Homo sapiens: one gene and its partners. The protein of the gene in region 3 interacts with the protein of the main gene of each other region in a pairwise test. Each region holds a gene or a part of one and is shown on either strand. Other genes may lie near its edges. The genes, in order: PCNX4, KLRC2 and FBP1.

Region 1 (3,656 bases), on a different chromosome or scaffold from region 3:
CTTCCCTTTAAAAAAAACCTAACAGCAATAGCATGGTATGATTCAAAAACTCATTTTGCCACTAACTGACATTGTATCTTGGTTAAGTCACTTAATATCACTGGTTCTCAGGTTTTTTTGTAAAATAAATTAATTTATTTCTAGTAATTCATGTGAGTAGCAGACTTCATTCACCTGATACTTGATTTTAAAAGAAAAGTTTTTCAACCCAGGGAATTTATAGTGGGTGTCAGTCGAGAAAAATGATGGGACAAGTCTCAATCATTTTAGGAGATTTATTTGCCAAAGTTAAGGACGTGCCCGGGAGGCAAGTCTATGTCTTTCTTCGAAGATGATTTTGAGGTCTCCAAATTTAAAGGGGAAAGGGCAGGATGTTGAGAAGTACACAATTGTCATGTAAGAGGTGGGTAGGGGCAAATAGTTATTTATGCCTTTGGCTCAGTGAATCTGCATTTTTTACATAAGATGACATAAAAGGGGCAGAGGAAAATATTAGGGGAATCTGCATTTTACATAAGATAACAGACAAAATGGGGTAGGGGAACAATCAGATTTGCATTTATGTCTGGTGGGCCAGGGGTAACTGCACCTGTAAGCTGTCAATTGACATTGCCAGGATGAAATTTTAGCTCACTGGGAATTTCCCTGTGGGCAAAATATAGGGGAGGTGTGTAGCTTTTCATCTTGTAGCCATCCTATTTAGAAACCAAAAGGGGGGAGACAGGTTTGCATGACCCAGTTCCCAGCTTGACTTCTTCCCTTTGGCTAAATGAGTTTGGGGTCCCAAAATTTAATTTCCTTTCACATTTCCCTTCTTTTTTCTGTAAAATCTTTTGGAGAAAGCATTTTAAAAGGAAGACGAGTTCCTGGCCTCAGGTTGGTTTTTCCTCCCTTTTTTGAGCTGCTTTCTTATTGCTAGGATGGTTTATTCCTAGAAGTTCAGGTCCCCAGTCTCTAGGAAGGCTCATTTCTAAGAGGTCATGTCCCATGAAGGTTAAAAAAAAAAAATAGGAAGAGGAAAGAAGTAAAAAAGGAAAGGAAAAAAAAAGAAAAAATATATAGGGACCTAGGCCAGATTTATAGCAACAAAAGGAAATCACACCTGGAAGCTGGGTCAGGCTATATTACTGCCTTCTCAATTAGAGCAATTCTCTAGGGAATCATTACCCTAGCCCTTTCAGTTCATTGACATATTTGCAGGCACATAACCATAACAACACTGTAAGCAGAAACAGGACACAACACAAACTATTATTCCTAATATAAGCAATAAGCTTCTGTCACCAAGTTTCCCAGGATCCAAACCCACCACTCAACTGATTGATTAACGAAGGTTTTGGGTGTGACAGATATCTGGGTTTTCATATCAGTCATAAGTCAGATTATGTTCTTCAATTCATCTGGAATATAAACACAACATTCCATTTTTATGATGGTGCAGGTCCTCCCTTGTGCTGCCGTGAGTCTATGTAAAGCCATACGGTTTTGCAGCACAGCTTTCCTCATAAGCATGACTTCCTTGTTTAGCAAGGAAATACTCATGCAGCTATCATTCAGGACCTTTTGGGAGTAATTCACTAAAGCCTCTATATGCCATATAACATCTTCAGTACCTATCTGTGGTACAAAGATTGAAGCTAAGTGGTCATACCATTAGAATACCAAATGTGTCCAACAAGATTGTAAATGAAAAAGGTTTGCTGGTTTTGGCAGGTCTGAATTACTCGTCCTTGTGCCCAGGCATAACATAGGGAACATTGTCCTAACCACTCTGGAGGTAACCACGGCCATAAGTTAGTGCCACATAGCCAATATGTCCCATTTGGAGCTAGCCAATAAATAACTGATCATTGGCACCCAATGGGTGGCAAGCCATTCAGTGTCTTGTAATATGATAGTGTGGTCACAGCGTTCTCCAGGTATCCACCCCATATCTCTCGTACTGTTTGGACATAGGTCCTTGGTGTGATTTCTTTGCTCCCAACACAAAGCATTTTGGCTGAGTTGGCCAAATGAAGGGGTGAGCCAGATAAATCAATACCAATTTAAAAGGCCTGTGTAACAAATAATTATTCTTGCTGTACTGTATCCAAATAATTAAGCCAAGTATAGTAAAGCAAACCAGTCCTACCATGACTTGTCTTTTAATAAGTGGGAAACTGGAGAGAGAAAATTATGTTTCAAAAACTGTAGCACACCTGTTGTTAAATTCTAGTCTTGCCTCATGTTTTCCAATTTTTAGTATTTTCTACAGTTTAAATTCTGATTTTTCTGGCTACAAGTTTCTAAAATAAGTTGTGCTTCCTTAAAGTCCTATGAACTGAAAACTAGATGTTTTATCAGGCGCTGCCTCTAAACCCCCCAACCATCACAGAAGGAAATCTCTTCACTGCTGGCATTGACAACTAATAACTGAGGGTGCCCGGAATCCTTCACCCCATGTCTAGTGAGTCTACGGAACCAGGGTAATTGAGACAATATCTGTTACAGGAATCAACTCCTGGATACATCACACTTGAGTCAAAGCCTGGAAAGCTGAGGAAGCAACCCCTGAGAGCCCAAAGGAACGTCCTAAATATAATGGAAATTATTTACTACGCCTTGTGGGAATTGCTTTACTCTACTATTTGCAGTAGGACTATATACTATAGCACCTTCAGGGTGGAATATCTGACAGGGAATCTCAATTGCTGTAGCATTTTGCTTAATTATTATCCTCATAGCAGGAATAACTGTTACTAACAAAAGATAATATGTGGGCCTTTCCAAACATGTGCCTCTGCCTCTCATTAGGTAGGGAATGTTGTTTCTATCTCAACCAATCAGGCCTAGTAAGAGACTGCTGAAAAACTTAAAGGTCTAAAAAGCTAAGGGAATACCAAAACAACCAGACAGATTCTTGGTTTGGGAGCAGAATCATAGCATGGGTCACCCCATTCCTGGGCCCTCTCCTAATAATATGCCTAGGACTAATGTTCTTACCCTGCCTAATTAACCTTTTTCAAAGATTTTTAGCTGACAGACTCATGACCATTTCACACACAACTACCCAAAAACATCTACAGTGTTATTTCTGCAGTCAATCCAAGACCCAAAAACTGTCTGTCCCCTTGTCAGCAGGAAGTAGCCAGAAAGAACACACTGCCCCTCGTCATTTTTATAACTACAGGGTCTGGATTGACAGAGCAGGAGCATCACCCTCTTCGACTTCGACGAGGACCATCATTTTAAGTTTCACCTTGATCAAAACCCACCAAAATCCAAAGGGCATCAGCCTTATGGTTAAGGTCAGCATGAACATAAATCACACAACATCTCTGACCAGAAACATTCGAAACCCCTCCCGGACCAGAGACATGCCAGCCCCGAGATAACCTTCCCCCTGGCTGGAGAGATGTCAGCCCCAAGATAACCTCCCTTCTGACCAGAGACATTCCAACCCTACCATAAGCTTCTCCCCCATGCAGAAACATTCCAAACCTGTAATAAGTTCTGTCACCAATAAATACTGTAAGTCTGTAAGAGAGAGCTTTCCTGACTGAAATCAGCCAGAAGCCTCTCTCAGGTTTATTCTCCAAAACAAACCTGTCTTTGACTGTTGAGCCACTTTGTATTTCTTTCCTCTTTAACTTACACTGTGACCTTACAAAACACTC
Region 2 (3,756 bases), on a different chromosome or scaffold from region 3:
CCTTACCAATGTAATAACAACTGTTGGAATATGTAATCCACTCCTCAGGACAATGGCCACAATGACGTGCTAATAAAGATATGAATTACTATCTAGACCAATATGAATTTTTAAAAATGAAAATTAGTTCACATATTTCAACAGTATAAACATATATGTGCTTAACATATTTACGCATCCTTACAGGCTTATAAATGTATATTTTTAATAACTGAGTCAGTCATACACACATGCACAGACAAGGGTTAGCCTCTCCTCCCTAATTGTGTTCCCATATAAAGCAAATGAACAAACAAAAATACACTCTACACATGTGTTGAACATCGCTGATACACAACTGCTTTTTTAGAATAGTAAAATTATTTATTTGGTATCATCTCACAGCAGTAGGAAACCTCTGTTAATTGGGAGAAAGAGGGTAGAATGATTTTAAGTGAGTATTTCTACTCACTGGAGAAAAGGAAATGCTGCCTCATAATCTTTCTTTATAAATATTTATGGCTGAATTTATGGCTTATTTTCTGCAAAAATGCCACTATTCTTTTACATGCCTTAAAACAGACACAAAATATAAATTGTACTAATATCAGAACATTGAAAATAAAAATGTACCTTTCTGCGTTCTTGTATTCGGGGAAAAATTGTTCTGCTCCAGGACTGTAATAGAAAAATTAAAATGATTTTTATAAAAACTGATATCTAGATAAACCATAACGAGTTTAGTTTCTTACTTTGAAACTTTGTGTGTTATTTAAAATGGGGAGAATCTTTAATAAAATTAACTTTTTCTATAAAAATATATAAAGTAATAGACCTTTGAAATAAACATTTTTAAAGACTTTAGCACAAACTTCACCATCTCTTGTAGTATTTGATGTAACCACTTTCAAAAATTAATTTGTTTTTCTAAATACTTTTCTTCTATAGCATGCCTTTGAATTATGAAATCAGAAAATATCTTTGTGTGTGTATGTATATACATATATATAGATTACACACAAAAAATAAACACATGTTCTCTACAATGATTTTGTTATTTATGTTGTGAAAAATTCAGAATAACCATATTACTTTTGGTTCCAAATTGTACTAATATCAGAACTTTGAAAATAAAAATGTACTTTTCTGGGTTCTTGTATTTGGGGAAGAATTGTTCTGCTCCAGGACTGTAACAGAAAAATTAAAATGATTTTTATAAAAAGTAATATTTAGATAAACCATAATGAGTTTAGTTTCTTACTTTGAAACTTTGTGTGTTATTTAAAATGGGGACAATCTTTAATAAAATTAACTTTTTCTATAAAAATAAATGAAGTAATAGATCTTTGAAAGAAACAGTAAAATAAGAGTTCTATTCTTCAACAGTATGAAATATTTTGAGGCACTTCCAAGCATTAAAGTAAAACGTTCCCTTCTAATCTTTCAAGAATATGCTTACAAGGAATAAGAACTATTGTTTTTAACACAGTGGCCATCAGGACAATGCAAATGATTCCTAGGACCTCGGCAGTGAGCTTCTCTGGAGGTGGCAGTAAACCTGCAGGGAGAGAAATAGAGGCACTGAGAGAGGGGAGATAGAGAGTTGATTAGGATTACATACTAGAGAATTACATACTAGAGAACCCACATGCACAGGGAAACATAATGATAAACTCTGGCCTCTAAATCTACATCTACTCTAGTAATCTTTCTCTCAGAATATACCATTTCATTTTCAGTAAATATAATGTTCCATGAGTGGACCGCAGATTACAGTTGAACAATGCCCGAATAAAATTAGTCTTCTGATTTCATATTAGAATTTTAGATCCCAATTATGAACTCCGATTCTCACAAGTGCAAAATATTCCCTAATCTTTCCTCACCCTTCTGCATTCAACTGCACATCCTAGAACAATAATATTGAAGATATATTTAATGTTTTACCTTGGCAGTCATATATTTTATCAATCCCTTGATGATTCAGGGAAGGATTTTGAAGATTTAATTCTACTTGGAATATTTCCTGTTCGGTTCCTGAAATGGAGCTTTTATTGCCTTTAGGTTTCCTTTGCTGCCGCTTTGGGTCCTGGGCCAGACTCACTTCTGAGAAGGTTCCTCTTTGTTTATTCATCTCTGCAGCTGTGTGATGTGAGGGACTGTGCTCTATGATAACTGCACTTAAGAAGCTATAAATGGTGTATATTTTGACAGGATCCCTGGTATAGGCAATGTGCATGTGTTGGGGCTGAGTAATAATGTTTACTTTGCTGTTAACCAATGTAAAATTCTGCTACTAATTTCCTAAAGCTTTAAACAAAAATCACACGATATAATTGGCAATTTTTTAGATGTATTCTGTATTTGACATAATATTACTAGTGGGAACAATAAAAACATTAAACTTATGAGAACTAGGAAGTTCATGAAAAATTGGTATTAAATTAAGGTTAGATTCTTCAAAAATGTTTAACACCAATAGACTGCATATGTCAACAATCAAAATACTGTATTTAGAAATACACAAATTTTATCATAGTTTTAAGAGTCATTGATGGTTAAGGATTGTGTGCCATAAGATAAAATAGTTCTGTCAGCATATAGAGTATCTTCTTATACTAAAATACATTGTTAGTGACTTACATTCATTTATTAAAAGGACCTGAGGTATTGTCAAATGATTTTTTTTCTAAATTAGGAAATCAGAAAAATCATTAAAATTTTAAAAATATATCTTGTAAAACATTACATTACTGTATGCATAAATATTATTGAAAACGTATTTTTAAATTGCTGCTTTTACACAAGAAATTGGTAATTGATTTAATGACTAAAATAGGAAAACTTAAAATGATAAATAAACGTGTGGGCCGTCTATGGAAGAATAGTGTCCAATCAAACTTTCAGAAAGCTCCTATGATTGTATAAGTCAGTGAGGGTTGCTTTGGTTGTATAAGTAATTGTAATAGTTCAGATAATGTAATTTAATAATCTAGTCAATGAGCTCTGTAGTCAGTGAGACTACAATTAATTCTAGCTTTGCAAGTTGTAATATGTGACCTGTACTAAATTACTTAGTGTCTACTAACCTAGTTTACTAATCTACATTGGGAAAAATAATTTATAAAGTATAATGTATGTAAAAAACTAAACACACAACCTGGCACATGTTACCACTGAATACATAATAGATATTTCAACTATTTTTAACACAATTGCCATTTTATTATTTCTGATTTGCATTAGAGTGTGTTAAAATAACTCATTAATTAGGCGTCTCATGTCAGTGTGGTACATCTTTTTTGCAATGTTTGGTTCAATTGTTTTAAGTCTTCCAATTGTTTATAATTAAGGTCAGATTTGCATTTTATGGAAATGATTTCATCCTTACTTTTATTAAAAATTAAAACTGCTTTCATGAAATCTAGGTGTGTGATTGAGAATTAATGTTTGACATTCACAATTTGATGTATCCATATTAAAAATTTATTTTTAAAGTTTGGTCTAAATATAATATACAAAATGTAATGGTTACAAAATCCAAAATTAATTGTTCATTGTCATGATGGTTATGGGTTTCACTCTAAATTACATGGATTGGCAAACCTATTATTATGTATGCATCTACTTGAGTGATTCTCCAGCGGCAATGATGTGAATACTCTAAGAAATCCTTAAACATAGTTTATATTTTGGCTCGTTTTTCACCTTGAATTATTCACGTGAATAAAGTTCTACCTTGATTTTCGTCTATATCAACTTTACCTCAGGTGCATC
Region 3 (3,656 bases):
TTCAAGCATAACAACTACTCATATAAATGAGAAAACCACAAACCAGAAAACCACAAACCCATTTCTTTCCACCGCTTCCCTGCCCCTCCTAGTTTTCACCTGGGGAGGTGGTTAGTTAGCTGGTTGCACTGGGTTATTTGATTCAGTTTGGTTTGTATTCACCAGACAGTACAGTGGAGCTAAACACAGACTAAACTTACAGGATCAAAACTTTGAGGGAATAATTCCAAGTTTTGCCAATGCACAACCTTGAAAAATGAAATTAATGGCCTTTGTCAACATGCGCTGCCTGTCAGAGGCTCATTTTAACAATCACCAGCTTCCCTTGAAGCCAGGTACACAGTGGGTGGACTCAGGACTCTAACTCTCCTCTCCTCCCACTGCAGGCTTCAAGTAACCAGTTCTCTGCCAATAAAGGCCCCTTTTCCCAGAGATTCACCTCGCCCAGAACCATCCGTGCCGGCCTGTGGCAAAGGTGCAAAAGTAAACAGCCCTTCCCTGACATACGGTCACCAAATGCTCTACATTTATACACTTCCTCGCACGGAATAAAAAATAATAGTAATACTTGTCTATGACCCACATACTCAAAACGAAGAGAAAATTATCCCACTGAGCCATGGATTTGGAGGAATTCTTTTCTAGCCCAGCCCCCAATTTTTTTTTTTTTTTTTTTTTTTTTGGAGACAGAGTCTTGCTCTATCGCCAGGCTGGAGTGCAGTGGCACAATCTTGGCTCACTACAACCTCCACCTCTTGGGTTCAAGTGATTCTCCTGCCTCAGCCTCCCAAGTAGCTGGGATTACAGGCGCCCACCACCACGCCTGGCTAATTTTTTTTTTTATTTTTAGTAGAGATGGGGTTTCACCATGTTGGCCAAGATGGTCTCGAACTCTGGACCTCAGGTGATCCGCCTGCCTCAGCCTCCCAAAGAGCTGGGATCAGCCCCCTTTCTAATTCCTTCCTCCAAATGCTCAGCAATGCATGCCTTTCCTCCAAGGGAAACATATTCCATTCTCCTGCAGATGCCCAGGGACCAATGAGCACGGAGCACTTGGCAAAATCAGAAACCTCTGGACCCTTCCTTTCTCTGCCTATCTGAGGCCACCACCTGCTGTAGGCACTGGCTCCATGTCATCACATATTATTCCATGTCATCACATAAGGAGAAGTAGGCACAGAAACGGAGGGCCTGGGGGAGGAGAGACTGTCACGTCCACAGTGGTCTTTCCTCGGAGCAGAAACCAAACCCTACTTTTCTGAATCTCTGCTTTTGTGGTGGGAGCTGTAAAGGACATTGCAAGTTAGAGTATGTCCAGTAGAGGGTGATCAGGCTAGAGAGAAGTCTCAGATCCCTCTCCTGTGAAAGATGTTCAGCTTAAAGGGAAAAAAAGTGGGTGTGGTGGGCATTATTGGGAGGGCAGAAACACTGTTTCCAAACATGTCAAAGAATCTTATTTTCTTATGCTCTAAACAGCCAAGTGAGCAAAATGAAACAGATTTCAACTCAATATTTGGACAAACCATGATGGTTACCCAGCATTGCAGGAGAATTCGCCCTGTCAGGATGTCTCCAGCCAGACACTGGTGGGGCCAGGCACCGTGGCTCATGCCCGTAATCCCAACACTTTGGGAGGTCGAGGCGGGAGGATCGCCTCAGCCCAGGAGTTCAACACCAGCCTGGGAAACATAGCGAGACCCCCTTGTCTCTACAGACAATACAAAAATTAGCCAGGTGTGGTGGTGCACCTGTAGTCCCAGCCACTCAGGAGGCTGAGGTAGGAGGATGGCTTAAACCCGGGAGGGTGAGGCTGCAGTGAGCCATGATGGCGCCACTGCTCTCAGCCTGGGCGACAGAGTGAGACCTTGTCTCAAAAAAAAGAAAAAAAAGAAGAAAAAAAAAAGGCCGGACGCAGTGGCTCACGCCTGTAATCCTAGCACTTTGGGAGGCCGAGGCGGGCGGATCACGAGGTCAGGAGATTGCCACCATCCTGGCTAACACACGGTGAAACCCCGTCTCTACTAAAAATACAAAAAAAATTAGCCAAGCGTGGTGGCGGGCGCCTGTAGTCCCAGCTACTCGGGAGGCTGAGGCAGGAGAATGGCGTGAACCCGGGAGGCAGGGCTTGCAGTGAGCCGAGATCGTGCTACTGCACTCCAGCCTGGGCGACACAGGAGACTCCATCTCAAAAAAAGAAAAAAAGAAAGAAAAAGGAAGAAGGAAGAAAAGGAAGAAGAAGAGGAGGGAGAAGGAGGAGGGGAAGAAGGCAGAGGAGGAAGGGGGGGACGAGGAGGAGCAGGGGGAGGAGGAGGGAGGGAGAAGGGGGAGGGACAGGGAGAAGAAAGAGAAAGAATAGTAGTAGTCGTGGCCGGGCGCGGTGGCTCACGCCTGTAATTCCAGCACTTTGGGAGGCCGAGGTGGGCGGATCACGAGGTCAGGAGATCGAGACCATCCTGGCTAAAACAATGAAACCCCGTCTCTACTAAAAATACAAAAAATTAGCCAAGCGTGGTGGTGGGCGCCTGTAGTCCCAGCTACTCAGGAGGCTGAGGCAGGAAAATCGCTTGAACCAGGGAGGCAGAGGTCGCAGGGAGCTGAGATGGCGCCACTGCACTCCAGCCTGGGCGACAGAGAGAGACTCTGTCTCAAAAAAGAAATAGTAGTAGTCGGTAGGCCCTGGAAAGATGCTGTGGCAGGAGCTGCATGCAACATGACCACACATCCTTCCACGTGCCTTTCCAGGAATCGTGTAGCAAGGCCTGGTCACCATGGCAGGGTCACAGTTACTGATGCTGCCCCACTGGGCGTGGGCACCATGGTGCGATTCTAGCCAACAATCATCTCTGCAGAAAGCAGGAAAAATCCCCTTGGAAGCATTATAGATGTCTATGTTTATGCCTCATGAGCCCTCAACTGGTTTCAGCTGTTTCAAGCAATCAATAAGGCTTCAAAAAACTGAAATGACTTAGAGGTCTGTGTCATACTCATCATCACTTTCTTTTTATTAATTAATTAATTTATTTATTTATTTTTTGAGACAGAGTCTTGCTCTGTCACCCAGGCTGGAGTGCAGTGGTGCGATCTCGGCTCACTGCAAGCTCCGCCTCCCAGGTTCACACCATTCTCCTGCCTCAGCCTCCCAGGTAGCTGGGACTACAGGGGCCTGCCACCACACCCGGCTGATTTTTTGTATTTTTGGTGGAGATGGGGTTTCACCGTGTTAGCCAGGATGGTCGCAATCTCCTGACCTCGTGATCCGCCCGCCTGGGCCTCCCAAAGTGCTGGGATTACCGGGGTGAGCCACCGCACCAGGCCCCACTTTCTGTCTTTTAAAAAAGTCACTTCTGGTTCATTGAGAAGACAGCCGAGCCTTATTGTTGAGAATTCTGTCATTCATAATTCAAGCTGCTGTTGCAAGCTGGCTTGATTTTTTTTTTTTAGTTGATAGCCAATGTCTCTCAATTTCCCAGGTTTTTTTTCCTTAAAAAGTATTATTTGGGGGGACTGAGATGGAGAATGGGCTTAGTAAACATCAACACTGCTTTAGTTGTGGTTAACACATTAGCCAGATGTCTTCCTCTGCAAGGAAGAATTTTGCTACAAACCTCTCCTGCTATTCTGTGGATTTGATATTTTGCAAGGAAAATTGCATTCTT

The links.
Region 1: the proteins of FBP1 (region 3) and PCNX4 interact in a two-hybrid assay, tested with the Homo sapiens proteins (one large-scale study listed by BioGRID and IntAct).
Region 2: the proteins of FBP1 (region 3) and KLRC2 interact in a two-hybrid assay, tested with the Homo sapiens proteins (one large-scale study listed by BioGRID and IntAct).

What each region holds. Positions count from the first base shown.
Region 1 is NC_000014.9:60,094,796-60,098,451, forward strand, and holds part of PCNX4 (pecanex-like protein 4), read left to right. Parts: intron 1-3,656.
Region 2 is NC_000012.12:10,433,874-10,437,629, forward strand, and holds the start of KLRC2 (NKG2-C type II integral membrane protein), read right to left. Parts: upstream 2,138-3,756; 5' UTR 2,114-2,137; coding exon 1,927-2,113; intron 1,538-1,926; coding exon 1,439-1,537; intron 658-1,438; coding exon 613-657; intron 70-612; coding exon 1-69. UniProt on the Homo sapiens protein: Immune activating receptor involved in self-nonself discrimination.
Region 3 is NC_000009.12:94,611,893-94,615,548, forward strand, and holds part of FBP1 (fructose-1,6-bisphosphatase 1), read right to left. Parts: intron 1-3,656. UniProt on the Homo sapiens protein: Catalyzes the hydrolysis of fructose 1,6-bisphosphate to fructose 6-phosphate in the presence of divalent cations, acting as a rate-limiting enzyme in gluconeogenesis. Plays a role in regulating glucose sensing and insulin secretion of pancreatic beta-cells.